Homo sapiens: one gene and its partner. The protein of the gene in region 1 interacts with the protein of each later gene in a biochemical or structural test. Each region holds a gene or a part of one and is shown on either strand. Other genes may lie near its edges.

The links.
Region 2: the proteins of PATL1 (region 1) and DDX6 form a complex in vitro, tested with the Homo sapiens proteins (one study listed by BioGRID).

What each region holds. Positions count from the first base shown.
Region 1 is NC_000011.10:59,659,038-59,662,863, reverse strand, and holds part of PATL1 (protein PAT1 homolog 1), read left to right. Parts: intron 1-3,394; coding exon 3,395-3,612; intron 3,613-3,826. UniProt on the Homo sapiens protein: RNA-binding protein involved in deadenylation-dependent decapping of mRNAs, leading to the degradation of mRNAs. Acts as a scaffold protein that connects deadenylation and decapping machinery.
Region 2 is NC_000011.10:118,752,855-118,756,680, reverse strand, and holds part of DDX6 (probable ATP-dependent RNA helicase DDX6), read left to right. Parts: intron 1-357; coding exon 358-421; intron 422-1,177; coding exon 1,178-1,279; intron 1,280-1,793; coding exon 1,794-1,969; 3' UTR 1,970-1,976; intron 1,977-3,826.

The DNA of each region.
Region 1 (3,826 bases):
TTATTAAGGGGAAATAGATTATCCATATTTGATAGGATTTGGTAAAGTTAGCAAGCATGAATACTGGAAGTAGTGATAGAAAAGCATGCAAATTAGAACTCTACTGCATTAGAACAAATCCACTAACAAATTAACTTCTTAAATTTGGGAAGTAAATGTTTTTACAAATCCCTCAATTCAGGATGATAGATTCCCACTCTTGTGGCATTGCTAAGTTAGTAAAGTTGCAAAAAACAATTTATCCTGTCCCAGCTTACTGTTCCTTACCAAGGATGACACAAATATGAATGTCACATTTGGTTTTTAATTACATTATTCTTTAAATATTTTCTTTCATATGACTAGTCATTTAAATTAACACTGTAATTTTCATTTAAAGTGGATTTTTCCATTTTTTGGAGCACATCAGGATAGGCTTATCAGAGACCATCATCATAAAATGGCTACCTTAAATTCTTTTCTGTAAGATGACAGTTTAGAGGAAGAGTGCCACCTGACTAGTCACTCAGGTAAGAGGAAACTATTGGGTGGGAAAGAAAATACCACATAATTATAAAGAAGACCCATGTCCCGGAGGCTTAAGTAAGGATATTTTTATAGCTTTTGCCCACAGTCTTTATCCCAGTGATGGCACAGTGATCCACAACTTAAGGAATCCCTTACCACAACTAATACATAAATCAACCAAACTAGGCAGTGGGTCCTATGATACCAAAATTATATATTTGAAAGTCCCACTTCCCTCACTCTTTGGATCACTAGTATTATGTGATACATCGTTGTATGATTAAAAATTACATATATATAGCAAATTTTAACTGTTAATGTAATCTGATTCTAAAAGGAAATTAGTTTATTTAAATAGTCACATAAAATGCTAAGATATGTATGATGTTATTACAGTATTAATTATTATATTGGAAAATTGTAAATAATCCAAATGTTTACCAGTAGGGGATAAATTACATTATAGTTTAGCAATAAAATGCAATCTTATGTAGGTATTAAAAAGAATGAGTTACTATCAGTAGTTATGCCTGTGTGCATGCATGAAAAGATGTCCAAGACATATTGCTTAAATAAAAAGAAACAAGTTAACTTTATAAACTTAACACAGCTTAAAACTGTTTAAAACTTAACACAGCTGTGGAATTGTGGGGAACTTTCACTTAAGTTACATGTGTTTATGGTGTTTGAATTTTTTAAACATGTATTTTCTCTGAAAGCAGAAAAAAGAAAGTCTCTGTTTCTGTGTTGGTTATAACCTGTTATCCCTGTCTGTTGAATTTTATAAAACATATAAAGGATGTAACTAAAAAAAGAATACCATATAACATATACAAAATAATACTTTTTGTGGGTTAGAAAGTAATGCATATAGAGATGAGGTAAAGGAAGAAATAAAATGAAAGGATTATTTAGGAGTAGCTCCATTGAGGAGGAGGAAGAAGTTTCACATTTGAATACCTGAAAAGAAAGGCCAGAGGCAGTGGCTCAAGCCTGTGATCCCAGCTCTTTGGAAGGCTGTTGCAGGTGGATTGCTTGAGCCCAGGAGCTTAAGACCAGTCTGGGCAACATGGGGAAACCCCGACTCTACAAAAAATATAAAAATTAGCCTGGTGTGGTGGTACAAACCTGTAGTTCCAGTTACTTGGGAGGCTGAGGTTGGGGGAATCACCTGAGCCCGGGAGGTTGAGACTGCAGTGAGCCAGATCACGCCATTGCACTCCAACCTGGACGACAGTGAGACCCTGTCTCAAAAAATAAAAATAAAAATACTGAATGGAGCAAAACTGTGAGTACAGCTTTCATGATGGAAGCAGAATGGAATAAGATTGGAGAGAACTGGAGTGAGATGCGTTGGAAGTAAGGTCTAGCTCCAGAGCAGCTGATAGAGGGTTCTGAAGATTGTAATCTGTGCTGTAATGGGATTCCAAAACAGAAAAAATGATGCCAACATACCAAATGCAGAAACAACCTTAATGTCAGTGCTACAGACTTTATAGTAGTGTGCAGTAATAGCAGACATAGTTAAGATAAAAGAGGAAATGCCCCTTCCTCTTCCCTAGCCTGTTTTCAGCACAGCAGCCAGAGTGATTCTTTTAAAAGTTAAGCCAAATGAAAATTTCCATTGGCTTCCCATTTCAATCATAGTGGCCCAGAATGAGCTCCCTCCTCATGACTTCTTGACCTCATTTTCTTCTACTCTCCCCACCCTGCTCATTCCATTCCAGACACAGTCCTCCTTGCCGTTTCTCAAAACCATCAATCTCTCACCTTAAGGCCTTTCTTTATACTGACTGTCCCTCTGCCTGGAACCCTCTTCTCCCAGATATCCAAATTGCTAACCCTCTTACTCTTTAGAATCTTTGCTCAAATGTCATCTTCTCAATGAGGCCTACCTCTGACCATCTATTTAAATTTTCAATCTGCCTTTCTTCCTTTATATTCCTACAGCAATTTCATCTTCTGGTATAGTATCTAATCATTATGCTTATTGTCTATCATCTCTCTCTTTCCTGCTTGCATGAAAGTGTTATGAAGGCAGAATCTCTGTGTCTTTTTGTACACCAATGTATCCCATGCGTCTAAAACAGGGCTTGTCACATAATAGATGCTTACCAAATATTAATTGAATGGAACGAATGGATTCAAAAGCATGTAAAGAATGTGGCACTTAAAATCTAAGAGGAAGTTGTATGCTAATGCTATGAGTTTTAACTTCCCTTTAAAGTTTTTGCTTGAAATGTCATAGAATCTCAAAACCAACTAGTAGTACTATACATATCTATCACCAATTTGGGAAACAGTTTCAGAATATAGTTTGGACATTATTGATAATGTTTTAAGCTATTAATTCACATGTTTGAATTTTATTCCTGGTATAATGTTATTTGCTTTTACTTATAAAAAGCATGCTTTACGTGTCCCTTAGTTTAAACCTTATTTCCTGTTTCTAAGTGTAAACTTAACTTTCTACCTATCTTCTGGAATTATTCATTTGCTTAGCAGAAGAATTGTGTAGGCCGGGCGTGGTGGCTCATGCTTGTAATCCCAGCACTTTGGGAGGCCGAGATGGGTGGATCATTTGAGGTCGGGAGTTTGAGACCAGCCTGGCCAGCATGGTGAAACCCCACCTCTACTAAAAATACAAAAATTAGCCAGGTGTGGTGGTGGGCGCCTGTAGTCCCAGCTACTCCAGCTACTTGGGAGGCTGACGCAGAGAATTGCTTGAACCCGGGAGGTGGAGGTTGCGGTGAGCCGAGATCACGCCACTGCACTGCAGCCTGGGCGACAGAGTGAGACTCTGTCTAAAAAAAAAAAAACAATAATTGTGTAAAACTTTTTTGTACCACTATGAACTATTTCTTACATGAACTGTGTCATCTTATAGATGATGATTGGCAGGAAGCACATGAGCGCCTGGCTGAATTGGAAGAAAAGCTACCAGTGGCAGTTAATGAACAAACAGGCAATGGAGAGAGAGATGAAATGGACTTGTTGGGTGACCATGAGGAGAATCTGGCAGAAAGGCTCAGTAAGATGGTGATTGAAAATGAACTAGAAGATCCAGCTATTATGAGGGCAGTGCAGACCAGGCCAGTTTTACAAGTAAGTAAGTTACTGTGATTTGAGAACTATAGCAGACTAAAAATTAAAGTGAAGTATTGAACTTTGCCATTTTATTTTATCTATTATAATGAGAGATTTACATATACCATAGAAAATTGATAATATATTTCCTGATGATAGAAGTTCTAGAGATAAACTTGGGGAATAATGTATATTCTGGAGCCCTATAATTTCGTATTCTAAAGCAGCTTGA
Region 2 (3,826 bases), about 59 Mb from region 1:
CTGCTCTGGATTTTTAAATATGGCCCCTCAGCTGGCTGATTTTTCTTTTTTTCTTTACTGTTTGCCTTTAGAAAAAGATACAATATCTAAATTTCAGAATTTGATTTAGCAAAAAATAATTTAAAACTGTAACAAAAATGACTTTTTTGTTAACTACATTATGAAATTTCGTAAGTAAACAGTTTCTGTAGACGAAGATATCAAGAACTTAACTCATTTGGTTTTGAAAGCAGCTTAATATCATGGATCACTTATAAACAGATTTTGGGTAGAACTGATCGTCTGGGAGAAATAATTATGGGAAATTTGGGGCTGTATATGAGTGTTAATCAAATGGAATACATTGCTTTCTCCTAGGAACATCGAAATCGTGTATTTCATGATTTCCGAAATGGCTTATGCCGCAATCTTGTTTGCACTGGTAAGTATTTTTGTATTTCCTTTACCCAGTGTTTTTCTCCCAAGTTGTTTTTTGCTTTCTCTGTTCATATTACATAGTGCAACCTGTGACATAGTCCGACACACCCTACCACTACTTCTAGGATTTCTGAAGTTGAAAATGAACTCTTGTCAGCTCCTGATACTGGGTTCCATATCTGAAACTTTAGAAGACTTACTCTGGCACTCATACCTCATCTCTGTCTTTTTTTTGGGGGGGGGGGGGAGGGGGATGGAATCTTTGTCACCCAGGCTGGAGTGCAGTGGTGCGATCTTGGCTCTCTGAAACCTCCACCTCCTGGGTTCAAGTGATTCTCCTGCCTCAGCCTCCCAAGTAGCTGGGATTGTGGGCGCCTGCTACCGCTTAGCCCGGCTAATTTTTGTATTTTTGGTAGAGACAGGGATTTCACCATGTTGGCCAGGCTGGTCTCGAACTCCTGACCTCAGGTGATCTTCCTGCTTTGGTCTCCCAAAGTGCTGGGATTACAGGCTTGAGTGCACCCAGCCTCTTTTAGACACATTTTTTAAAACTTGCTTACAATTACTGGAAAAAAGTAACTTGGGAGCAGAAAGTTATTTATGATAATGTGATTATGAAAGGTAATGCCAGTAATGTGCAAATGCATTTGAATAACTGAATTAAATTAATAAACTTAGGTTATGCTAGAAATATGTGTTAGTATTGTACTGAGAGACATTTCTAAATTGAAAAAATGAAAATTATCTTTTTTTTTTTAAGATCTGTTTACCCGAGGTATTGATATACAAGCTGTGAATGTGGTAATAAACTTTGATTTCCCAAAGCTGGCAGAGACCTATCTCCATCGTATTGGAAGATCAGGTGAGGAAAAAAGAGGTGATATTCTTGGTAGAAGTTCTTTTTTGAGGCGTGTAATGACTAAATTTTGTTCTTTTGTGAAATAGAGTACAGTAGCTATGAGAACAGTGAATTAACAGTAATTCAGTTGTTTGGTATTTAAGACTAATTTCTAATTCTTCTGTAGCATTTATTAAGAAAAGTTAAAATAACTGCTTAATTTGAGATGAAATTAACACATGAGAACTTCACTCATTAGGTGGTATGTTCTGTGACTGTTGTTTAATGTGTATTTTATGGCAGTTTTGACTGCCATTTTGTCATTTGAGAAAGGTGAAATGAAGTACTATTTTGGGCTGCGAAACCTGAAGTTGTAGGGAAACCTGTGTTTGAAGACCATTAAGAAGTTGTTTTGCATACTAAGAATGGCACTGAACATCATTATCAATCCTGTGTGGTTTTGCCACTGCTTGACTTGCACAATTCACATTGATTTTCATATTTTATTCATTAAAATTTTTAAACGCATGTTTTTTAGGTCGCTTTGGTCATCTTGGCTTAGCCATCAACTTGATCACATATGATGATCGCTTCAACCTGAAAAGTATTGAGGAGCAGCTGGGAACAGAAATTAAACCTATTCCGAGCAACATTGATAAGAGCCTGTATGTGGCAGAATACCACAGCGAGCCTGTAGAAGATGAGAAACCTTAACAAGCATGTACGTCCCTGACAGAACAGCTAAGAGGAACCTTTAAATGAGGGAAATCAAAATCTTCTTTCCTGGGGGAAATTTGATGTCACACCATATATAATAGCAATAAAGGGTAAAATACCCACTAGCATAAATGACAGTAAATAATATCTCTTGTGGGAGGTTGTAGTCTCATTCGAGAATCTGTAAATGTTGTTCTTGAATGCAGCTTCCCGGGTAATGTGGTAGATTAGCAGTACTTAAATTCAGAGTCCTAAAATAATGAAAGCAAAAAAGAATGTTTTTCAGCAATTTGTTTTTCTTTTTGAGACAAGGTCTCACTGTCATCCAGGCTGGAGTGCAGTGGTGCAATCATAGCTCACTGCAGCCTGGTTCTCCTGGGCTCCTGAGTAGCTGGAACTGTAGGCACATGCCACCACGCCTGCCTAATGTTTTAAATTTTTGGTAGAAACAAGGTCTTGCTTTGTTGCCTAGGCTGGTCCAGAACTCCTGAACTCCAGCAGTCCTCCTGCCTTGGCTTCCCAAAGTGTTAGGATTATAGGCGCAAGCCACTGTGCCACTGTGCCTGGCCTTTTTTGACAGTTTTGTAGGGGGGATTTTTGTTGTTTTTGTTTTTTGAGAGTCTTGCTCTGTTGCCCAGGCTGGAGTACAGTGGCACAATCACGGCCCACTGCAACCTCTGCCTCCCAGGTTCAAGCGATTCTGGTGCACCTCAGCCTCCCAAGTAGCTGGAATTACAGGCATGCTCCACCATGCCCAGCTAATTTTTGTATTTTTTAGTAGAGTTGGAGTTTCACCATGTTGGCCAGGTTGGTCTTGAACTCCTGACCTCAAGTGATCTACCCGCCTCAGCCTCCTAAAGGGAGGCTGGGATTACAGGTGTGAGCCACCACACTGCCAGCAGTTTTGAATATGAAAGTATTTACATTTCTGAAAATGTAAAATGTTTTTAGCATTTACTCTTAATTTCTAGTAAGTACATTAATCACTCTGATAAAACTATCCATAATACCTTATTAGCAAATGTTTAATCAGATTATGAGGATGGCCATCTTTTTAAAATACCCACTCTGGGCCGGGTGCGGTGGCTCACACCTGTAATCCCAGTACTTTGGGAGGCCGAGGTGGGCGGATCACGAGGTCAAGAGATCGAGACCATCCTGGCCAACATGGTGAAACCCTGTCTCTACTAAAAATACAAAAATTAGCCGGGCATGGTGACACGCACCTGTAGTCCCAGCTACTCGGGAGGCTGAGGCAGGCGAATCACTTGAACCTGGGAGGTGGAGGTTACAGTGAGCTGAGACCGCACCACTGCACTCCAGCCTGGGTGACAAAGCTAGACTCCATCTCAAAAAAAAAAAAAAAAAAAAAGCCACTTGGGCTGGCTCAGTGGCTCACACCTGTAATCCCAGCACTTTGGGAGGCCGAGGTGGGTGGATTACCTGAGGTCAGGACTTCAAGACCAGCCTGGCCAACCTGGTGAGACCCCGTGTCCACTAAAGATACAGAAAATTAGCCAGGCATGGTGGCGGGCGCCTGTAATCCCAGCTAGTCAGGAGGCTGAGGCAGGAGAATCTCTTGAACCTGGGAGGCAGAGGTTGCAGTGAGCCGAGGTCATGCCATTGCACTCGAGCCTGGGCGATAAGAGTGAAACTCTGCCTCATATATAAATAACCCACTCTGATTTCCTAGGTAATAAGAGTGAAACTCCGTCAAATACATAAATAAAATACCCACTCTGATTTCCTGGACAACCTGTCTTCCCATCTTTTTTTTATTTTTATTAAGATGGGATCTCACTATGTTGCCCCGGCTGGTTTCAAACTCCTGGGTTCAAATGATCCTCCCACTTT